2 separate regions of the Homo sapiens genome follow, and region 2 is linked to region 1. The links come from fine-mapping of genetic effects on gene expression. A gene starts in region 1. The other region holds a variant in brackets. All regions are shown on one strand. Distances are from middle to middle.

Region 1 (11,661 bases):
GTAATCTGAATGGTATTTACTTCATTTTTTGTTTCAGCAATTCCACTGAAGAAATTATGGGGCAACACAAGATCTCTTGATGATGCCTATATAAAATCATGAATTACCACAGATTTTACTCCAAACTAGTACTGATGCAATGCTATAGCCTACCGTAAACCTTCTAAGAAATTCAAGGCCTAGGGATGCTACCCTTTCAGACATGACATGTCAAACTGTATTTGCTTTCTCTAGGACGGGGAAGAGGGAGACAGAGTAGATGCCAAGAGGTTTCCATTATGGCTTCTTTCTGGCCTTTGAGAGTTTCCCTAGAAAGGGTCACCATAAGCCACTATCATTCTAACATCTAAAGCTTGCTCTTTCGACCAGAATTGATAGCAAATGGAAAGTAACAATTAGAATTTATAAGACTGGAAGAGAATAGGAGAGGGAAAAGAAAGCTATTAGAAGAGGAAGGGATCCTTTGGAAAGGTAGGAAAGAAGATGACCTTCACCCATCTGACTGTTTGCTCTAGCGCCACCTACAGCCACACCACCTGACCCTCAAAAATCACCGACCCCTGGCCAGACAACATTTTTTCCAGCTAACTGCAGGTGCCTGGCTTATTTGATTAAACCACCACATTATAAGGTCAAGGTCACATGCTTGATCCCTACGTTTGTCCTACGTTTGTCAATGGGCACAAGTTGCATGGTCAAAAACTTGCCTTTTAACTCCAACCTCTCATAAATACCATCACTTACGTTAAAGACATTCACAAGAGAGGATATGAACCAACAATGCAAATCCATCAGCATTACTAAAAGAAAAAAAAACAGGAAAACCTGACTTGTGAGTCAGCCCACAGAACAAATTCCATTTAAGAACTCCCTGATCATCCTGGGCTTCAAGGTTAGATACATAAGAGTAAGAAATCAGGCTTCCCTACTTACTCGTTTTATGTGTGACCTTGGACAAGTTAATTTTTCAGAGCTTTAACAATAAAACACATTAAGGGTCCCAAATAGAGCTTGACATATAAGGGATACTCAGGTTATGCTAGCCCCAGCCCCATCTGGAGATAGAATCGGGCAGTCAAGAGCACAGGGATGAAGCCAGGTCCACCTGTATCCCAATCTTGATTTTGCAGCTCACGTGAAACACTGGGCAAGTGATGGCCTTATCGTTCTCATAAAGCTGAGACAAAAAAATTAAAGCATTTAGACAGCACACAGCAATTGTCAACTAACGGCAATTATGTTTTAAATGTTAAGAAGAATATAGTATTATCACTATCTGTTAATGTTTTCCAAAGTACAGTCATGGAACTATTGATATCAGAATGACCTGGGTGGGATGTCTACTGAGGGGGAAGAAAAGGATATCATGTCCCATCTCAACCTATTTAAAAAAGCTCTCCAAAAATGGTACAGGGTAATGGTCATTTCTGAATCAAACTTCCTTGAGATATCTATGAAAATTTCAGAATTACTGACCCAGCAGGTCTTGTGCTGTGTCATAGTAAATTAAGACTTGTTTTCCAATCCTTATTCTTTACTATGCCAGAATTGCCCAGTATCTGGGGTTCTTTTCTAATGAGACACATTTCTGGACATAGATGTCAAACTGATAGGCTCATACTTTTTAGGATCACTCCTGTTTTTTCCCCCAATGGTACTATTTTGACTTTTTTTTTTTTCTTCTAACCAGGGGTCGGCAAGCTATGGCCTTGATCTGCAGCTAATTTTGTACAACCGCAACCCTCAGAAGGTGTATGTGTTTAAAAAAAAAAACTGAAGAAGAAGTGATCAAGACCACATGTTGCCCTAAGTCTAAAACACTTACTAACCGGCCCTTTACAAGAAACCTTGCCAATCACTTTGTAGCCTATAATTAAATGTTTTTCAACTGGAGGTCTCAATACAATTTAAAATAGGGAGAAATAACTGATTCAAATAGGAAATATCAAAAAGCACTGCATCTGACAGAAGGAAGTACCTGTACTATTGCCAAAGTTTCTGTTATACAGATGTATGTGCCTCCTGGATAATGATCAAATTGTATTTGGTTGCAGTCAAAAAGTTTTAAAGTCCTTGGGGGTGAGGCTAGGGAGTAAATAGTGCAATTGTTTAACAAGTTTAACTTGTTTAAGTCACACTGAGCAATTTTTACAGCAAAGGTGCCTTGGAGAATATAAAGCCATATAAAATGACCCCTGCTGTTCAGAAGTTAACGGCTTATTTCTTCACTACAAAATGAAAATGGAATCTTTTCTGTGCGCAATATATTGTTATAAGGAGAAAATGCAATCATCAATGCAAAGTACTTCAACAAATGCATTATACAAACAAAATATTTTGATTATATTAACAACATATCATACAGAATATATATATATATATGGTCTTTACCAAGCCCCTTAGTTCCTAGTTTTCTCCAACCTGGGAAAAGAGTCCTTTTTTTCCCCTTTGTGTGTGTGCACGAACATGTCAGGAGCATAAAAGAAGTATTAGATATCTCTGCCCTTTCTGTCATCCGTTACTGGCTGCTGCTTCTTACCTATTTAAAACATGCATTCTTTTCTCTTTCTCGTTTCTGGTAGGAAAAGCTTTTGATTCGATTCTTGTGCAAAAAGAATTATTAAGACTATGTTTATCCTCTTGGGGAAACATTTAGAAGTCCAAAATTAAAATTGTAAGTAACAAGCTTCACTTTTATCTTCACAGCGCACTAATTTCCAGGGTTTCTGGGATTCTTTTGGAGAAACTAAAAATACACTAATTTTATAATCCATTTCAACATGTAATCCTGCAAAGAAAAGAAACATCTTCCTAGGAGCATACACAAGGAAATGAAATGACACTTTTAAATGTTTTCATTTTATGAAATACACTGCGGACACACAAACCACAAGCAGTGTAAATAAATAAAAGCTGGTGCAATGCTGCATGCATGTTTGCCTTACACCACAAAGAGAAAACACTTGCACACTGCACTCCATGGTATTTTAGCTTGGGTTGCCATAAAAATGAGATTTGGGCATGTTGTGTAATACAAGGGGCTGTAAATGAGGGTGTGTGTCTGGGTGTGTTAGGGAAAGAGGGTTGTAAGCAGAAGGGGTGGGACTTGCCAGGAGCAGCTATTTGAGAAAATTCCTTTTTCTTTCCCATTCATTCTTTCTAGCTCTACTGTCTGGCACAATCCTTACAATTACTCACTGGCTTTTCATTCTAAAGACAACCAACAAGCTTTCAGAACTTCCTACAGTGTTTTTCTCATACACTTTTAAAAAAATAAAGCACCAAATCATTCAATATGTCTTTTATATAAAAAGCAAACCATTAACCCATTTCCTCGTTCCAAAGACCCCCGTGGGTTTCAGACTAAATAGAATCCTTTGTTACGTGTCCAAAAATAACACAACACGGTATTGGTAAATTGGAAAATAATAGATAACTCTTATTTCCAAGAATGTCAGAGCTACTGGCCATAAATTTTGTTCTGCCCCAGTGAGTCCAATTTCATGCTTCTTTTAGCGAATCTACCGTCCTAACAACAGTAAAGCCAATCATATTAAACACGGTTCTCCTTTTCTCTTTCGACATTCCATTAATAAATACAAGGGCTGAAAGAAGACGCCAAGCGGGCCAGTTTCTTTATGCACAATGGTATCCTCTAAGCGAAATACCTCCAACCACAGCGAAAGTTGTCTTTCTAGCAGATGCCCACCCCAACCGGCCCAGGCAGAGGGGGCAAAGGGTAAGAGGGAAGCGTAACATCCCAGCTCTCCCACCTCTAGAGGAAGGGAAGAGGGTATGACAGAGAGCGGAGTAGGAAGGTGGGCGAGTGGGAGAGACAGAAATGGATGCTGAGGGGGTGGGCGAGATGGGAAGGTAGGGAAAGGTGGAGAATGCGGGGAGAGGTGGGTGCGCAAAGCGGCAAGATCCGAGAGCACAGCGGGGAGCGGTGGGGGGCAGCGAGGGGATCCGGGGGCGCGAAGTGGGGGGTCTGGTCCTCACCATTGAACGCCCCTGCGTCCGCGGGCGCCGCCTCCTCCTCCTCCCCGTCCTCGGAGTCGGACTGCATGGGCTCCTCGGCGAAGTTGACCCCCTTGCTGGGGGTGCCGCCCCCGGCAGCGGCGCCCAGGTCCCCCCAGGTCCTGCCCTCATGGCCGAAGCGCGCGGTGCCTTTGCGCTCGTTCTCCTGCTGCAGGCGGGTGAAGTGCTGCAGCGCGAACTCCAGCAGGTCCGCGGGCTGGTGCCTCAGCACCTCCACCGTGAAGCCCTGCAGCAGCTCCGTCAGTCCCGCCGGGATCTCGATGCTCATCCTGCCTCCGGGGCGGCAGGCGCCTGGGCGCCGCCCTCGCCCCCTCCCCGGCACGGCCTAGGGCCCCGCGGCTGCCGAGCGAGCGCCTACGGCGCTGGCGCGCTACCGGCTGCGAGCGCGGCGCACTGGGCCCCGGCGGCCCGGCTGGCCCGGCCCGCGGCTCCCGGCGCGCGTCTGCTCCGTGTGGTGGCGGCGGCTGAGCGAGCGCGGCCCCGGGAGGGCTGGCAGCATCTCCTGCTCCTCCCGCTCCAGCCGCGGCCGCGCCTCTCCCCCGCCCGGGCGCCCCGCCCCCGCCCCGCCGCGGTGCGCGGGAGGGGGCGCAGGAGAGCGCGCCCACGTGACCCCCGGAAACCATGGCAACCTCCGCTGGCTGGCGCCGCGCACCCGCCTGTCAGACCACCGCAGGGCTGCGCGCCCGGGCCGGGAGAGGCGGAGGGAGGCCCAGCGAGGCCGCCTTCGTGTCCACCTGTCCGCGCGTCCAGGAGCGGGCTGGCCACTCGCCCCGCTTCCCAGGCGTCATTCGCCATGGTGAACCCCCGCAGAGGTGGTGCCAGGAGATTTGTCTTGAAACTTCAGCCTCCACCTTAGTAGTGGCATTTTATTTTCCTTCTAGAATCTAGTTGCATGATAAGTGTTGCTAATGTCCTTTGTTTAAAGTCTTATGGTGGTACTGGTTCTCTTTTGGACAAAGAAATGCTACCCCATCTTTGTGACGTCTTTCTTTTTCTTCCCCACATTTTATCCAGCCTTTCCCGATCCATCCTGTTTATTATGTTTCGTCTTACTGATGCTATTCCGTTGTGCACTCCACGCATTTACTATTTATTGAGACAAAGGCACCATTTATTGAGAGGCACCTATCAAAGTTAGTTGATCTCTTTTAAATAGGATAGTGCAGGATGAGGCGCTTATTATTTTGAAACTTTCCTTTATGCTTTGAATGATTTTTGACTTGTATGTCCAAAAATTGAAATACTTCAGTATAAAGAAAAATAGAATTACTAATGTGTGCTTTTAAAGTAGAAGGCTTTGACTTTGAAATGAGGCTTACTTTGCAAATGTTTACAATTTTGAAGTAGAGAAAATTGTCTTTTGTCAATTAAATTCTATTTAAGTACGCATACTTCATTTTCTACAATTATCATATCATTGTAAATAAAATATTTCAAGAGCAAGCTCACTTGGTTATTCTGATTTATCTTCCCACCCACGGAAGAGTAAACACATGACTGGGGAAACTCCAAGTCTAGAAATCAGAGATGTAACGAACTAGTCCCTCTTGTAAAAATGGATCTTGATGTTAACCCTTTGTTAATGATGCATCCTGTATTGACTCCATGAGCCAATGTATTTCTCTATTTTCATTTCTTAACAACTTTATAGTAATAATGTTACGTTGCTTTAAATATACAGTAGTTAAGTGCTTCTAATTGTGTCGAGCATTTTAAGAATTAAACTTTTGGCCGGGCGCAGTGGCTCACTCATGCCTGTAATCCCAACACTTTGAGAGGCCGAGGTGGGCGGATCACCTGAGGTCAGGAGTTCAAGACCAGCCTGGCCAACATGGTGAAACCCCATCTCTACTAAAAATACAAAAATTAGCGGGCATGGTGGCAGGCACCTGTAATCCCAGCTACTCAGGAGGCTTAGGCAGAAGAATCGCTTGAATCCAGGAGGCGGAGGTTGCAGTCAACCGAGATCGTGCAGTGCCGTTGCACTCCAGGCTGGGGGACAAGAGTGAGACTTCGTCTCAAAAAAAAAAAAAAAGAATTAAACTTTTATAAAATATGGTGAGCCTCACATGTCACCGGTTGGAGCACAATGTTAGTACTACTCTCTACCGTGTAAGCATTATTATTTTTACGGATCTGGTAATCTAAGATGCATGTGTATCACCTGTCTAAATTTGTGATAATATTTGTATTAATTATGATAAACACTGCTCACATGTGGCAGAAAATGCGAAATACAATAGCTTAAGATTTATTTCTCTGGAATCTAAATGTGGGCAGTTCAGAGTTGGTATTGAGAGGTGATAGCGTGCTGGCAGTCCTCACAGCCCGCACTCGCTCTTGGCGCCTCCTCTACCTGGGCTCCCACTTTGGCAGCGCTTGAGGAGCCCTTCAGCCTGCCGCTGCACTGTGGGAGCCCCTTTCTGGGCTGGCCAAGGCCTGAGCCAGCTCCCTCAGCTTGCGGGGAGGTGTGGAGGGAGAGGCGCGGACGGGAACTGGGGCTGCGCGTGGTGCTTGTGGGCCAGCGCGAGTTCCGGGTGGGCGTGGGCTCGGCAGACCCCGCACTCGGAGCGGCCGGCCGGACCCACCGGCCCCGGGCAGTCAGGGGCTTAGCACCTGGGCTAGCAGCTGCTGTGCTCAATTTCTCGCAGGCCTTAGCTGCCTTCCCGCGGGGCAGGGCTCGGGACCTGCAGCCCGCCATGCCTGAGCCTCCCCCCCACTCCGTGGGCTCCTGTGCGGCCCGAGCCTCCCCGACGACCGCCGCCCCCTGCTTCACGGCGCCCAGTCCCATCGACCACCCAAGGGCTGAGGAGCGCAGGCGCACAGCGCGGGACTGGCAGGCAGCTCCACCTGCAGCCCCAGTGCGGGATCCACTGGGTGAAGCCAGCTGGGCTCCTGAGTCTGGTGGGGACGTGGAGAACCTTTGTGTCTAGCTAAGGGATTGTAAATACACCAATCGGCACTATGTATCTAGCTCAAGGTTTGTAAACACACCAATCAGCACCCTGTGTCTAGCTCAGGGTTTGTGAATGCACTAATCGCCACTCTGTATCTAGCTATTCTGGTGGGGACGTGGAGATCCTTTGTGTGGACCCTCTGTATCTAGCTAATCTGGTGGGACATGGAGAACCTTTGTGTCTAGCTCAGGGATTGTAAACACACCAATCAGTGCCCTGTCAAAACAGACCACTGGGCTCTACCAATCAGCAGGATGTGTGTGGGGCCAGATAAGAGAATAAAAGGAGGCTGCCTGAGCCAGTGGTGGCAACCAGCTCGGGTCCCCTTCCACAGTGTGGAAGCTTTGTTCTTTTGCTCTTTGCAATAAATCTTGCTACTGCTCACTCTTTGCGTCCACACTGCCTTTATGAGCTGTAACACTCACCATGAAGGTCTGCAGCTTCACTCCTGAAGCCAGCGAGACCACGAGCCCACCGGGAGGAACTCCAGATGCGCCGCCTTAAGAGCTGTAACACTCACCGCGAAGGTCCGCAGCTTCACTCCTGAGCCAGTGAGACCACGAACCCACCAGAAGGAAGAAACTCCGAACACATCCGAACATCAGAAGGAACAAACTCTGGACACGCCACTTTTAAGAACCGTAACACTCACCGCGAGGGTCTGCGGCTTCATTCTTGAAGTCAGTGAGACCAAGAACCCACCAATTCCGGACACAGTGTGGTACTCCATGATCATCAGGGACCCAGGCTCCCTCCAGCTCATTGCTCTATGATCCTGTCTGTGGTCCAAAATGGCTGCTCCAGGGCCAGTCATATTTTAGCTAAGAGGAAAGTGAAAAAGAGAAGGGAAGCTCCCCTCCCCTCCCTTCCTTCTAGGAAGTTAAACACAATTCCTCTTCTATCCTCTTGGCTAGAACTTAGTCAACATGGCCACACCTTTGGTGTGGCAAATTGCATTTTCCAAAGACGGCTACAACAATATCTCCTACAGTGTGGCGTGGCCACTACTCACTAATGAATTGAAGTCTTATTTCCCCTCCCCTTGAATCTGAATGTGCTTGTGATTTCTTTGACCAATAGAACATTGTAAAAGTCAAGTCAGCATGATAGAAGAAGCCAGCCCTGTACTGGATGCCCTGGCTGAAGCCTTGTTCCACAGAATCTGTGAGCATAATAAAAAGGTTGTTGTAGGCCTCTAGGTTTTGAGATAATCTGTTACACAGCAATAGCAACTGAAACCAATGGCTATTAGGAAAGTTTGGAAATGTAATATTTATTTTGAGCAGTCACGTGCCAAGTAAACATTTGGGAATTAAAAAGAACCAAGTCTGGACGGGCACAGTGGCTCACTCCTGTAATCCCAACACTTTGGAGGGCCAAAGAGGGTGGATCGCTTGAGCCCAGGGGTTCGAGACCAGCCTGGGCAACATAGGGAGACTCCATCTCTATAAAAAAATACAAAAATTGGCCAGGCTTGGTGGTATACATGTGGTCGTAACTGTTCGGGAGGCTGAGGTGGGATAAGCGCCTGAGCCCAGGGAGGTCAAGGCTGCAGTGAGCTGTGGTTGTGCCACTGTACTCCGGCCTGGGTGATAGAGTAAGACCTTGTCTCAAAAAAAAAAAAAAAAAAAAAAAGTCTGGAGATAATTATCAATCTCTGCCACAATGTCTAATACCTTTTCCCTAGGAATGACAAAATTAAAAAAAGCACTACTTTTCCAAACATTATTAAGAGCCATATCTTGTTAATGCCATTTTGTGTTTCCAAATTCATTTATTTCTTCTTGTAGATTTATTATATGAAGCATGGTAGATAGCTCTCTGTCATCAACCACAATGCCAAGGTTGTGTGGTTCTCATTTCTTTAAGAATATAGCAATGATTTCAAGCATGAAATGCGTAATTGGATTAGATGACCTATATAGTCTTTTTCATCCTGAGAGATTTACAATAGTATAATACTAAAACAAGACTTATTGGACTTGAAACATCTTTGCAAACAGCTCTTTGGTAATTTTCATTTGCATCAGTTCTTAAATCAATAACCATGACCTGAAAAAGTAAAGCTTGGTCCTGATATTCCCATTACATTAGCATTGTTCTCAGAACAAATGTTCACTTCTCAAATCATATTCTGGCTTTTATTCACTACCACATAACCTTTTTGGTAATATTTTATGATTTCTTTTGCTTTCATTTTCAGAATATTTCATTTTGAGCCTTTTGAACAGTGGCTTATGGGAACTATGTATCTCATATTCCTTAAAAGAGCATCACTGATACTGATTCTTTGGTTGTGGATTTGCAAAGCAATTTGCACCAGTTTCTCAGAGAATCAGACTGGAAGCAATGGCAAATGAACTCTGAGAGCTCAGCATTGAAATGAAAAGAGTGCTATCAAATTTGTTTTCACACCAGGAAATTAAACAGACCCATCAACTTGCTTATATGTAACTGCCAAAAAAACAAAGTCAATGGCTTGGGCAAGCAGTACAGAATAATAACTATGACCAATCAATCATGCAGCATTTCCTGTCAATAGTTAAGGTGTTTCCTGATCAAGTCTCTGGAGTGCAAGAAATATATACCCACTCAAGGAAAAAAAAGGAGGCAATTGAGAGGATACAGGGCCTGTTCTTGCCCAAGGCTGACTGTGATCATCAGCCTCAGTTTTACGTACCTTTAGCATTTCAACACTGACTACAGTTTTGGTGTCTCTGATTCATATTCTCAAGAGAGAATCAGGTTAGTTGGTCTTGACCATCTAGTAGATTGCCTGGCCTTGACTGGTCTAGTAAGTGTGGCCAGTAGGGTGCCAGATAAGGAAGTGGTCAGGTAGTATAAATACATGATAAGGCCTGCCTCTTCAGCAGAGGAAAGTCCCGAATATTGGGAACAGTCCCAATGTTATAGAGGTGGTACAGATACTTCACAACATGCCTGCTAAAAGATGGTCACCTCATAGCCTGAAAATCTTACAGACATTTGGACTAAAAGTAAGTAAAATGTTTAATCTCTATGTGCAACTTCGCAAAAGGGTTGCCGCTAGAAAACTAGTGATTCTCAAATTTTACCAAGCATCTGAATCACCTGGAGGGCTACTTAAAACACAGTTGCTGGGCCCCACCCCCAGAGTTTCAGATTCAGTAAGTCTGAGGTGGGGCCCGAGAATTTGCACGTCTATCAAATACTCAGGTGATACTTAGGCTGTAGGTCTCGGGACCACACTTTGAGATCCACTATGCTAGATTCACTAAGGAAGAGCTTATGTTCATGCTGAATAGGAAGCTGCTTGAAGCAACTTTTTTTGCTTAATATCAACGCATAAGTTTTTCTTTGGCTAAATCAGGACGAAATGTATACTCATTATTCTCCTTTAAGGAATCTTGCAAAGTTAAAGAGATTCTTAAAAAGCAACAAAGAATATGTCCTTAAACATATTTCATAAACAGAATATGGGTTTTCTATTAAGGACCACGTTGGACACAGAAGTTTATCTCTACTCCACTAAAATAATGGCTAAAGGAACACAGGAAAACTCAAACAACAAAAAGAACAGGAGAACCACAATACAAATTTAAAATAATTTTAATTTTTTTTGATTATTCAGCCTTAAAAGGAAGGAATTTCTGACACATGCTAGAAGACATTATGCTAAGTGAAATGTCAGTCACAAAAAGACAAACACTGCATGATTCCACTTATATGAAGTATCTAGAAAAGTCAAAATTTATAGAAAGAGAAAGTAGAATGGTGGTTGCCAGTGGCTGACTGGGGAGGGGAGAATGGGAAGCTGTTTAATGGGTAAAGAGCTTTGGTTTTGCAAGATGAAAAAGTTCTGGAACTGGTTGCACAACAGTGTGAATATATATAACACCGCTAAACTGTACACTTAAAACGATAAAGATAGTAAACTTCATGTTATGTGTACTTTATCACAAATTTTAAAAAAATTAATTCTTTAATTAAAAAAAAGAATAGGAAAAGAGACAAGAACAGATGAGAGTTGTCTACTAGAATTTTGGAACTAACAGCAAACTGAAGAATGCTGGAACCTAAGCCTGGGTGAAGGGTCAGTGAGAGCAAGCCAACAAGAAGCAAGATCACATCTGTATTACAGAGCACAGAGTCTGAAGACACCAGGTGTCTCTGGAGGGCTGGTAAGGGGTGAGGATTGGTTAAATGGCTGTAGAAAGAGCTGATAACACTGTCCACCCTCCAGCCCCTTCTCTATCTTATGTAGGCAAGTAATTGCTCTTCTTCATTCCCAGGGGGAAGTGGAGGAATTTATTTTCTAGAGAAGTTTACACAGCTTACTATGGGGATGAGATTCTATACTAAAAAGAGGAAGATTGATCCTGATTAGTGAGCTACTTATCGGTGGCCTCCTTCCCTTCTGGACTCCCCAAATTTTGGACAGACAGATGTATACCCTCTTAGGCAGGAAATTAGAGAATTCCTTTTTAAGGAACTGACCAGCCCAAGACACAAGACCTACAGTTGCTGACATTGGAGGGTCCCCATTGAAAAACTCAGGTCTCCGTGTTTTCACTCCATTGTGAAGTCCACTGGTCAGTAACCACCACCCCTCCGCATACTTTACAAGTATGAAATTGTGCAAGAATCCTGACTTCCAAGAAAACTTATTCATATGAAAGACTAGAAT
Region 2 (11,661 bases), 60 kb after region 1:
TCCAAGTGTCTTCTTATTATTCTATAATACTTAGCATATTGCCCTTACCTCCATGGTCCAGTATGGTGCACCATCATATCCATCTCCATGTTCCAAGCAGCAGGATAGAAAATGGAGGCATGGGGCCGGGCACGGTGGCTCATGCCTGTAATCCCAGCACTTTGGGAGGCCAAGGTGGGCAGATCATGAGGTCAGGAGTTTGAGAACGGCCTGACCAACATAGTGAAACCCCATATCTACTAAAAATACAAAAATTAGTCAGGCATGGTGGCACATGCCTGTAATCCCAGCTATTCAGGAGGCTGAGGCAGGAGAATCACTTGAGTCCAGGAGGTGGAGGTTGTAGTGAGCCGAGATCATGCCACTGCACTCCAGCCTGGTGACAGAGTGAGACTCTGTCTCAAAAAAAAAAAAAAGAAAAGAAAAAAAAAGGAAAAAAGAAAATGGAGGCATGATGGGAATGCCCCTTTCATTATGACACATCCCAAAAGTTAAACATTTTACTTCCCATCACATGCAATTGACCAGCTCTTAGTGACGTGGCCACACTTAACTGTAAGGGAGGCTGAACAATGCAATCTTTATTATTATTTTTTTCGACATGGGATCTTGCTATGTTACTCAGGCTGGGCTTGAACTCCTGGGCTTAAGCAATCCTCCCTTCTCAGCCTCCTGAGTAGCTGGGACTACAAGTGTACACCACTGCACCTGGCTAACAATGCAGTCTTTATACCCAACCTCCATGCAAATGTCTACCAAAAAAAGGTTCTATCATTATAAAAAGGGGAGAAAAGATATTGGAATGCTGCCAGAAATCTCTGATTCAATAAATAGCAGACACACTTTAACATATGGAATTAGAACAGAATATAATGGAATTTTCTCTGAGGGTTGCTGAACATAGCTGAATGTGAGAAATGCCTCTAGATGTCATTAAATGGGACATTCTTCATTTATAATGAAATAGGTTGAGAAAAGACACAGGTTATGCTCAGTCTCAGCCCTAATGTCTATATTCAGAAAAGAAAAGGGTAAAAGACTGGACCGAATGAAAGTTTAAAGGTCTTTCTCACAGCAAATTGCTAATGTGAAGAGTTGTATGCTTGGCAGAATGTAGTGTGACTACCCAAACATTCCTCTGGGCCTTTGTAGAAAATGTAATGGCCCATAAGGAGGTCAAAGAGGCCTTGGGGCTAGAGGAGACAGAGAAAATACCAAGGGAAATTTACAGATGACAAACGCAAGGGCAAATTGGGTGCAAGTTCAAAACTGTGGAAACAGCATGGAGAGATAGAGGGCACGTGTACATCTGAGTTATCTTGCAACATACTACTAGGGGCAAAGAGTAATGGGGTTCTAAGCCACTGGTGGTAAAGGCAGAGGGCAGTTTCCAGAGAATGACAGCTGAGGAAGAACCTCCTGGGGCCACTGCTGCCCAGCTGACAGGCTCCTGGGCTGACTCTTCTGAATTGTACTTTTTTTTTTCTTTTGAAATGGAGTCTCGCTCTGTCACCCAGGCCGGAGTTCAGTGGCGCAATCTCAGCTCACTGCAACCTCTGCCTCCTGGGTTCAAGCAATTCTCCTGCCTCAGCCTCCCCAGTAGCTGGGACTACAGTCACCCCCCACCACGCCTGGCTAATTTTTTTGTATTTTTAGTAGAGACAAAGTTTCACCATGTTGGCCAGGCTGGTCTCGAACTTCTGACCTCAGGTGATCTGCCTACCTCGGCCTCCCAAAGTGCTGGGATTACAGGCATGAGCCACTGCACCCAGCCCTGAATTGCACTTTCTGAAGCAGTCTTCAAGCAGCTGATTTCCTAGAAGAGTGGTAATACTTGGCCTGTCTTCACCACTGTAAATGTCTGCAAAAGCTTTGGATAGATATTCCCTCTTCTCATGCTCTCAGGTTGATTATAAAGATACACATGTCACCCAAGCCACCTACGTGTGTCATAGGGTGCTCTGGTTTAGTGTTAGTGTTTTTGTTTCCTTCCATTTTTGGACTATTGCAATTAATTTGAGGTGAGGTAAATCCAAGGAAAAACATGGCTGAAGGTCTATCTATTCTTATTTCTAGTGCAATAACATCTTGTACACTCTTCCCTATTCTGGACCACTGAACCCAGGAGGTAGAACTTGCAGTGAGCCGAGATCGTGCCACTGCACTCCAGCCTGGGTGACAGAGTGAGACTCCATCTCAAAAAGAAAGAAAGAAAGAAAGAAAAATGGACTATTATTATTTCCAGAAATTATTCATAGGAGTCTTCAATAGTGAGCATCTGTTGGTGTGCATAGCATGCCTTCCCTCCCTTATTCTGGTAACAACACATTTCCTTACTCTGGGGAACTACCATTCTACATGGTTTCATTATTCCTGGTCCCACTCAGTTGCCAGGGCATAGAGATGGGCATTTGACCCAAGCAGGGACAATCCTGTGGTTCTTCATTCCTTTAGCAGCAGTGACTGTTTCAAAGTGTGGGCCTGGAATCCAAGGAGGGCCAATCAGAATTCTTCTTTGGCAGTGACAGGCAGATGTGGCTGAAAATAGTCAATCTTTCTGCCAGGGCTGCTAAGCTGAGATAATGAAAGTTTTGTGATAGAGGCAGCCATCTTCCCTGCCTGCAAAGAGGAAGCCCATCTGAGATGGGAAGCAGTAAGGCCAATACACAAAAGAAAGAATGGAGAGGTTGTGGGATAGGGTGGGGAGGAGAGGGAGAGACAGAGGCCTTATGACTCTAAGTTTTGGGGGCTGGCAACCCTCAGCCAGTTCTTACAGAGAACTTCCCAGTTTGGAAGTTGGAAATGTCTCTTTTTGTGCTTAAGGTAGTTTGAGTTGAGTTACTGTCATTGTAACTGAAAGAATCATGGCTAATATGCCCTATATACTAAATTTGTTCTTTTCCCTTTCCTTCCTGCCCTTGGACTCCTTTCTTTCCAGGCCCCTGTGTGACGAGGCCCTTGGTCTGAATCGGGACTGCCAGACTCTTCTGCAGGACCTGTCTCTCTTCTTGTCTTGGTTCAGGATTTTTCCATCTCTAGCTAATATTCCTGGTTTCCTTGGTTGTATTGACCAACTGTGACCCACAATCTTTATTTCCTCTTTTCTTCCAAAGTCTCTCCTCAACAGCCCTCCAATGTCTGTCTCCCTTATAATCACCTTAATCAACTTCCATGTTTTCCTTTGAGCAGATGTAGCCAGCTCAGTTTTTACTCTTTGTTCTGCAGCTGGTTCCCTTATGTCTTTATTTTCTTCAGATCTTAATCTTGAGTCATTTGCATAAATGTGTTTCTTTTTGACAGGAATGGTACATACCAGCCCCCTTATATCCTGCCAACTTTTTTTTTTAATACAGAAGACACTTCTCTGCTATGTTTCATATCCAAAACACTTCCTGACTACACTTTTTTTTCTTTGAGATGGAGTCTCGCTCTGTCGCCCAGGCTGGAGTACAGTGGTGTGATCTCAGTTCACTGTAGTCTCCGCCTCCTGGGCTCAAGTGATTCTCTGGTCTCAGCCTCCTGAGTAGCTGGGATTACAGGTGCCTGCCACCACACCCAGCTAATTTTTGTAGTTTTAGTAGAGACAGGGTTTCTCCATGTTGGCCAGGCTGGTCTCGAACTCCTGACCACAAGTGATCCGCCCGCCTCAGCCTCCTAAAGTGCTGGGATTACAGGCATGAGCCACCACACCCGGCCCTGACTACACATTTCACTCTGGTGGTTTAGAGGTGCCTCATCTCCAGCTGCTCCCTATCTCAAGTAAAATTATCAATCCCTAATGAAAACCACAGCAATTATTTAATTTTGTTAATTTTCATGCCAACAGTTCTATTTCTCACTTATTCTCCAGTTCAAGCCTCAAACCAGGCCCTTTTTGGAGGGCTGTTAAATTTTCACTGTTGTTTAAAGGCAAGTCACACAGCTCTTCCTTAGATTACTCTTCCAATTAATAAATGCAGAAGGAATAAATAATATAAAAATTCAACATTAGGCAAACACCATAGTAATAACTGTTGCAAGAAAGAACCACTAATGAATGCTAGAATTAGTGGACAAAGTCCAGTGAGAAACAGGATATTTGCATAATTTCAAAGAATCTCCCCACAAGATATTTATTCATTATGAAGAGGGAAAATTGTAACTCTACACTGGCGAATCCTAGAAGTGATCAAGGTCAACATCACCATGAAGACCCATCAGTATCACATAACCATGCTGTGATGCACTGAGAAGTGAACAACATCCCTTCTGTGATGTTCTTGACAAAAAATGTACAACCTCAATCTAGTCATGAGAAATCATCAGATAAACCCAAATTGAGGAACAGTCTGCAAAATAACTGACCAGTACTCTTCAGAAATGTCAGGGTCATGAAAGATGAAGAAAGACTGAGCAACAATTACAGACTGAAGGAGACGAGGGAGACAGGACAACTAAATACACATAACCCAGGATGGGATCCCAGACAGGAAAGGGACAGAGGACAAGTGATGAAATTTGAGTAAGGCCTGTAAATTAGGTAGTATTATTCTATCAAAGTTAATTTTCTAATTTAGATCACTGCCCTGATTTATTGTCTGAGTTAATAGCCTAGGCACCAGGATTTTTTTTTTGCGGGCGAGGGAGTCTCGCTCTGTCACCAGGCTGGAGTGCAGCGGTGCAATCTCGGCTCACTGCAACCTCTGCCTCCCGGGTTCAAGTGATTCTCCTGCCTCAGCCTCCCGAGTAGCTGGGATTACAGGTGCCTGCCACCACGCCCGGCTAATTTTTGTAGTTTTAGTAGAGACGGGGTTTCACCATGTTGGCCAGGATGGTCTCTATCTCTTGATCTCGTGATCCGCCTGCCTCCGCCTCCCAAAGTGCTGGGATTAGAGGCGTGAGCCACCGCACCCGGCTGGCATCAGGATTTTTAAAAGCTGCATGGGTGGTTTTAATGTGCAAAGGGAGGAAGTATTACATATCAACAACAATCTAGACACTAGCTTTGGCTTGTCCCACTACTCTTTTGTACTAAATCCTTGCAAAGATTGCAACTAGTCATTGCCTTGAGGGAACTCTGTGATAGATTGGATTTCCTAGAGGGAAGACATGGCAGATCAGACAGGAGCCAGGTCTGAATGGTGCTTCATGCTCTAGCTACTCAGGAGGCTGAGGCATGAGAATCACTTGTACCCAGGAGGCAGAGGTTGCAGTCAGCCAAGATCGTGCTATCGCACCCCAGCCTGGGTATATACATATGCTTACATACATACTTATGCATAAATTTAACCAAAGAGGGTAAGATCATACACAGACAACTATGAAACGTTGATTTATAAAATTATAGAAGACACAAATAAATGAAAATATATCATGTGATCATGGATTAAAAAAATCAATATCGTTAAAATGTCCACACTACTCAAATAGAGTCCCAAATAGAACTCTTACCTGATAGGTCAACAATGTAACCAGTCAATAACCAATGTTTTTCTTGTGAACAAGTAAGAATTCCTGAACAACTTTTGTATTTTTGTGTGTGTGTGATTTGTTACTCAAAGCAATCTACAGATTCAATGATATCCGTTTCGAAATTCCTTTATCATTTTTCACAGAAATAGAAAAAACAACCCTAAAATTTGTATGGACCCACAGAAGATCATGAATAGCTAAAGCAATCTTGAGCAAGAACAAAGCTGGAGGCATCACACTTTCTGATTTCAAAATATACTATAAAGATGTAGTCATTAAACAGTATGGTGTTAAACAGTATGGGCGACAGAGCGAGACTGTCTCAAAACAAACAAACAAACAGAAAGTTCAGAGATGTTTTTCATCAACTCTTTGAGAGGTCCAGGCAGGATGGAGCATGAGACGCCCTTGGCAAAGGCCAGCTCAGTTACACATCCTTGTGTTGCTTTGCTCTCCTTTGTTTTCCTCCCACTATCCTGTACTACTGCTCCTGGAATCACATTTCTGAATAATGACTTGCTCACAAGTTCCAAAGGCTCCTGGTTTTGTTTTTGTTTTTTTGAGACAGAGTCTCACTCTATCACACAGGCTGAAGTGCAGTGGCACAATCTCAGCTCACTGCAACCTCTGCCTCCTGGGTTCAAGCGATTCTCCTGCCTCAGCCTCCTGAGTAGCTGGGATTACAGGCATGCACCACCAAACTAAGTTTTGTATTTTTAATAGAGATAGGGGTGTCACCATGTTGGCCAGGCTGGTCTCGAACTCCTGACCTCAGGTGATCCTCCTGCCTCAGCCTCGGAAAGTGCTGGGATTACAGGTGTGAACCATCGCACCTGGCCCAAAGGCTCTATTTCTGAGAGAACCCAGGCTAAGATGTCTTCAGTGAAAACAATAAAATCACACAAAATTAGGATAATCATGGAAAATCCAGGATGTCTAATTTGGGGATAAGATTGTCTTCTGTTATTTGAGCTATCTGTCCCTCTTTTCTTCTTTCAAATGGAAGGCAAAATGGCTAGTCCAGTATCAGCTTGCTTTTTTTTTTGACCAGTCTGCTTTAATTCTTCAAATTCCCTTTGCACTCTCTCTCCTTCAGTGGTTTCATTTGCAGCTGACAGCTAACCCTCATTACCCCCTTGGCCGAAGTCAGAAGAAAATAATGAGG[C/T]TTAAATAATTTTTCTACTCTGTTTAAACAAACTCCCACTGGCCAGCTGCTGCCGCTGTTGTGCTTACAACCCTCCTTTTTTCTTCCAGCTTCTGAATATCTCTGCTGATAGCTAGCTTCCACCATCGTTCACCTTCTGCCCAGCCCACCTGCTACCCAACTTCCCCGTCCACGCCTCACACCTTGCAACTTTCCTCCTGTGCCTCACCACCGTTCACTCCGTCAGCCTCTCTTCTTCACACCTGCCACTCATGAGCAGTTTACGCTTTCCAAGACAGCAGCCATGCTGTGACGCAGGTGGGAAAATAATCAATGAACAAATAGTCCCTAAGGGCCATTTGACTTGTCCAAGACTACAATCATTCACGTATTCATTTGGCAAACATGTATTGAGTGTCTAATATGTGCCGCACATTGTTCCGGTGCGGGGTGTACAGCAGTGATAAAAGAGACAAAAAAAATTCCTGCTCACATACAGCTTACCTTTCAGACAGTGGCAAATTAGTGATAGAGCTGGGACACAACTCTACATCTCTTTATTTCTAAAATAGTCCTTTCTCTATACCTGTTTCCCTAATGGCAGACATGGCACTCATTCTATATCTCATGGTGTACTAGGCCGTTCTTGCATTGCATAAAGAAATACCTCACTTTGGGCGCGGTGGCTCACGCCTGTAATCCCAGCACTTTGGAAGGCCGAGATGGGCGGATCACGAGGTCAGGAGATCGAGACCATCCTGGCTAACACGGTGAAACCCCATCTCTACTAAAAATACAAAAAAATTAGCCGGACATAGTGGTGGGCACCTGCAGTCCCTGCTACTCAGGAGGGTGAGGCAGGAGAATGGCATCAACCCGGGAGGCAGAGCTTGCAGTGAGCCCAGATCGTGCAGCTGCACTCGAGCCTGGGCAACAGAGCAAGACTCTGTCTCAAAAAAAAAAAAAAAAACAAAAAAAAAACCTCACTTTGGGAGGCCGAGGCGGGCAGATCAGGAGGTCAGGAAATCGAGACCATCCTGGCTAACATGGTGAAACCCCATCTCTGCTAAAAATACAAAAAATTAGCCGGACATGGTGGCATGCGCCTATATTTCCAGCTACTCGGGAGGCTCAGGCAGGAGAATCGCTTGAACCTGGGAGGCAGAGATTGCAGTGGGCCAAGATTGCGCCACTGCACTCCAGCCTGGGTGACAGAGCGATACTCTGTCTCAAACAACAACAACAACAACACCCACAAAAGAAATACCTGAGGCTGGGTAATTGAGGAAGACAAGAGGTTTAATTGGTTCATGGTTCTGCAGGCTTTATAGGAAGCTGGCGCCAACCTTTGCTTGTCTTTTGGGGAGGCCTCAGGAAGCTTACAATCATGGCAGAAGGTGCAGGGGGAGCAGGTGTGTCACACAGCAAAAGCAGGAGCAAGAGGGAGTGCTGGGGGGAGGTGCTACCCAGTTTTAAATGACCAGATCTCAGGAGAACTCACTCACTATAGAGAGGACAGTACCAAGGGGGATAGTGCTAAACCATTCGTGAGAAATCTGCCCCCATGATCCAATCACCTCCCACCAGGCCCTACTTCCAACATTGGGGATTACAATTCAACATGAGATTTGGATGGGGACACAGATCCAAACAATATCACAATGGCTAAATTTTCTTATGAGTCATCGGGCTCCAGATTAAAATTTGTCATTGATTCACTACTCCCAGCCACCCCAGATTCTTCTCTGTTGAGCCTCTACAACTGTTAAGGATGTTCAACCTACCTTTCCCTATCTTGGCTGGAACTATGCAAACTGAAGGGCAGGAAATGCCAGGTGGAGCAGGAGAGGCTGAACCATGGCTGAACCATTTCAGCCACGGTTCCACTCTGAAGGGACATCAGCTTTTTCCCACTGATGTCCCTTTTCTTTGTGATTTTGAAAAGACTTTGCCACATTTCTCAGACCTGTGACTTGATATTTATTATAACGAAAAACCTTTTCCTTATGTAACAGCCTGCTTTAAAACCATCGTTATTATTAGTAGAGGTACAATTAGTTAATGAGACCACTGATATCTGTGATATCTGTGTAGGAGCAGTTCAGCTTTACCGAAGAGCCAGTTGATTCAGCTAGAGGCTGAGTGAGATACAATGTCTCCTACTTCCCCTCATTCCCTGCAAAGGCAATGGGAAATGACGGAGTGCTTTTTCAGTTCAGTGTGTACCCTCTTTGGGAATTTGCCATTGTTGTTTTTGAAGATAATGGAATTTATGCCACAGGATCCAGGTAGAATGCTATCCAACTTTTCTGTTTTCTAACAGAAATTAGGGCAAGGGCATCTCCATTTCTTGATGGATCTGAAAGATGAAGAACTGGCCACTCAGCAGCTGACCTGCATTTACAAGATCTGATAAGCCTCCCCTCCCCTCTCTCAATGGTTTGCAGCCTGACTACACAAGATGATTGGAGGGGTTTAAGATCTGCTTCATTTGAAAGAAAAAAAATCCCTATTAACCTTTAGAGATTAATTGCTTTGGATTGAGTATTGCCTCTCTTAACATCTTCTAAAATGTAAATACTTTCTGGAAGGAAGGAACACATTACGTTTTTTACACATTAGTGAGTTTTATCACATCAGCCTCCTCTATTTGAAATAGCTGGGCAGAACGAGCTCTAAATCTCTATCTTTAGGGAGGGAGGTAGAGAGCCTTGGAAGATATGAGGGATACGCTAGTCCCAAGGACTAACACAGGGCTGGCTGACCCTTTGTGATTACCAAGGACACGGTAAGGGTGATGCTGGGAGGGGAGGGGAGGGAGAGGCCCTGAGGGTTGTCGCTTCTGTCCTGGGGCCTTTGATTGCTTTAGCTCCCCTGTGGACATGTGGGAATAAAGCTGCTTCTGAGAGGTCCCTATGACCCCGGCAGCCAGGTTAAGCAATATTTCTCAAACTTTTCCCCACTCTGAGCCAGGCCACAGGCAATCATGACAATGTGTCCTAGACGTAACTGGTTTTACTTTGGCTTTCTCCTAAAGCAGTGGAAAAAAAAAAAAAACCAGTAAAAAGGATATAAACAAGATAAGTTCACGGAAGCATGGCAAGGCTCCCCGTTGCCTCCCTTTTATTTTAGGGAGGCCTTTCTGGAGTTCCATGACCTTGCTAGCCCTGCAAAGATGCCTTTTATGCTCCAAATCAGAAAAAAACATACACTAGCATACAAGGCTATGATTTTACTACCCAGAAAGCTACATCTCTCAGACCTGCCTGGGTTTACAGCCTGGAAATTCTTATTGCATCGGCTCTGGGAAAAAAATCTCACTTATCTAAGCTGATGCTTCTGGGGTGAGTTTTCCATTCACGTCCACTAGGGACAATGGCCCACTATGCATTCAGATCTTTCCAGGGGTCAGACACACTTCCGTCAGTAATGGCTGCCCATTCTGGTGGTGACTTCACACAGCAAAGGGAAAGACAAGAGTAACAGCAATTCTGGAGAAAAGAAGCTTCTAATACACTCCACAAAGGAGGGAGGGCTCCAGGCCGTGTTCCCTTTAAAATATATATTTTTGGTGCTAATGAAAAATAACAAAATAAACTGGCACAACAGGTGACTTTATATAGCTTAAACTAATTTCCAATTGCTATGAGGTGTACTAAAGGTCGTAGTAAGGATATCTATAATGTATTCTCTTTAATTTTATGTATGTTAATTACAAATGCCTGGATTTCCAACATTGAGGAATATAGGTTGCCTTTAAAATTGTGATTTTTCGTAGCTGTTTTGGTTTTCATGTTGATAAACTTTTAAAAATGCCATCAGCAGTCTAAGACATGACTTTCTGTACTCGGAGGCTAAAGACGTGGTGACAGTTTTTCTGCTTTCTAACTCCCCCTATCTTTTTGGAACAGGCTGTGACTGTGGGCGGACTATTCTGATACCATTGCTTTGGCTGTGCGGTATTTTGCAGCTTAAAAGTAAAAGTTCTCTCTGTTATCATTGAACATGCATCCTTGCTAAACACACAATGGATGTTCTGTAGATATAAATGAGTTCCTTCAATTCTGATGTTTCAGTTCAATGGCTCTCAAATTTCAGCATGCATTTACATCACCTGGGAAGAGTTCTAAAATGCACACATCTAGTGTTACCTACAGAGTATATGATTCAGCAGGCTGGGTTGGGTATCAAGGATCTGCATTAATCTGTGGCCTGAGGACTGCATTCTGAAGACAAATCATTACCTTAGGGCAGAGTTTCTCAACCTCAGCACTATTGCCATTATGGTTGGATGATATTTGTTGTGAGGGCTGTTGTCTGCATTGCAGGATGTTTAACAGCACCCGTAGCCTCTCCCCACGAGATGCCACTAACATTTTAATCCTCCTCCCACTTGTGACAACCAAAAATGTCTCCTGGAGTGGTGGATTTGAGAACCAATGCCTTAGAATCTTTGTCCTTCCCAACTCAAATGTCCTGGCCACCTGAGCATTCTTGTGACGAATTTGTGTATGGGGCTCTTGTCCCAAACATATTTTTCTTTTCTTTCTTTCTTTTTTTTTGAGACAAAGTCTTGCTCTGTTGACCAGACTGGAGGGCAGTGGTGCGATCTCGGCTTACCACAACCTCTACCTCCTGGGTTCAAGCGATTCTTCTGCCTCAGTCTCCCAAGTAGCTGGGACTACAGGTGCATACCACTGCACCTGGCTAATTTTTGTATTTGTAGTAGAGATGGGGTTTCACTATGTTGGCCAGGCTGGTCTCGAACTCCTGACCTTGTGATCCACCCACCTCAGCCTCTCAAAGTGCTGGGATTACAGGCGTGAGCCACCACACCCAGACTCCAAACTTAGTTTTCTTAGGAAGCTGTATGATAAAATGAGGGTTTTCTTAGTCACTTAGAGCTTAAACTAAGGGCACATGACCATTACCAACCCCCCAGACAACTTTTATTTGACCAGAACAGATTTGGTTCATTATTAAAATGAGTTACTAACATTTGCAACTTGAGATATATCCATTTTTAAAATTTTCTTGAAAATTCAGGAGATCTGATCACACGGGCC

Direction of the effects. Alleles are on the strand shown, and positions count from the first base shown. SD is a standard deviation of normalised expression in the study named.
With allele T in place of C in region 2, the expression in pancreatic islets of the gene that starts at base 4,509 in region 1 is lower (large effect, 1.2 SD a copy in PISA).

The links. PIP is the estimated chance that this variant, and not a neighbour inherited with it, causes the effect. A credible set is the group of variants that fine-mapping cannot tell apart.
Region 2: its variant is the best candidate, but not a certain one, in a credible set for the expression of PRKAR2B in pancreatic islets (PISA, PIP 0.89).

What each region holds. Positions count from the first base shown.
Region 1 is chr7:107,037,553-107,049,213 of GRCh38, reverse strand. It overlaps PRKAR2B (protein kinase cAMP-dependent type II regulatory subunit beta), which reads right to left and starts at 4,509. Exons shown (of 11, transcript NM_002736.3): 1 at 4,000-4,509. The coding sequence starts at 4,306. RefSeq lists silencers at 4,116-4,410, 4,197-4,756, 8,245-8,456.
Region 2 is chr7:106,977,625-106,989,285 of GRCh38, reverse strand. No RefSeq gene overlaps it. Among named protein-coding and RNA genes, the nearest start is that of PRKAR2B, 61 kb to the left of the region's middle. RefSeq lists cis regulatory regions at 9,205-9,604, 9,816-10,129, 10,301-10,972. The variant C/T (reference allele first, on the strand shown) is at 6,617.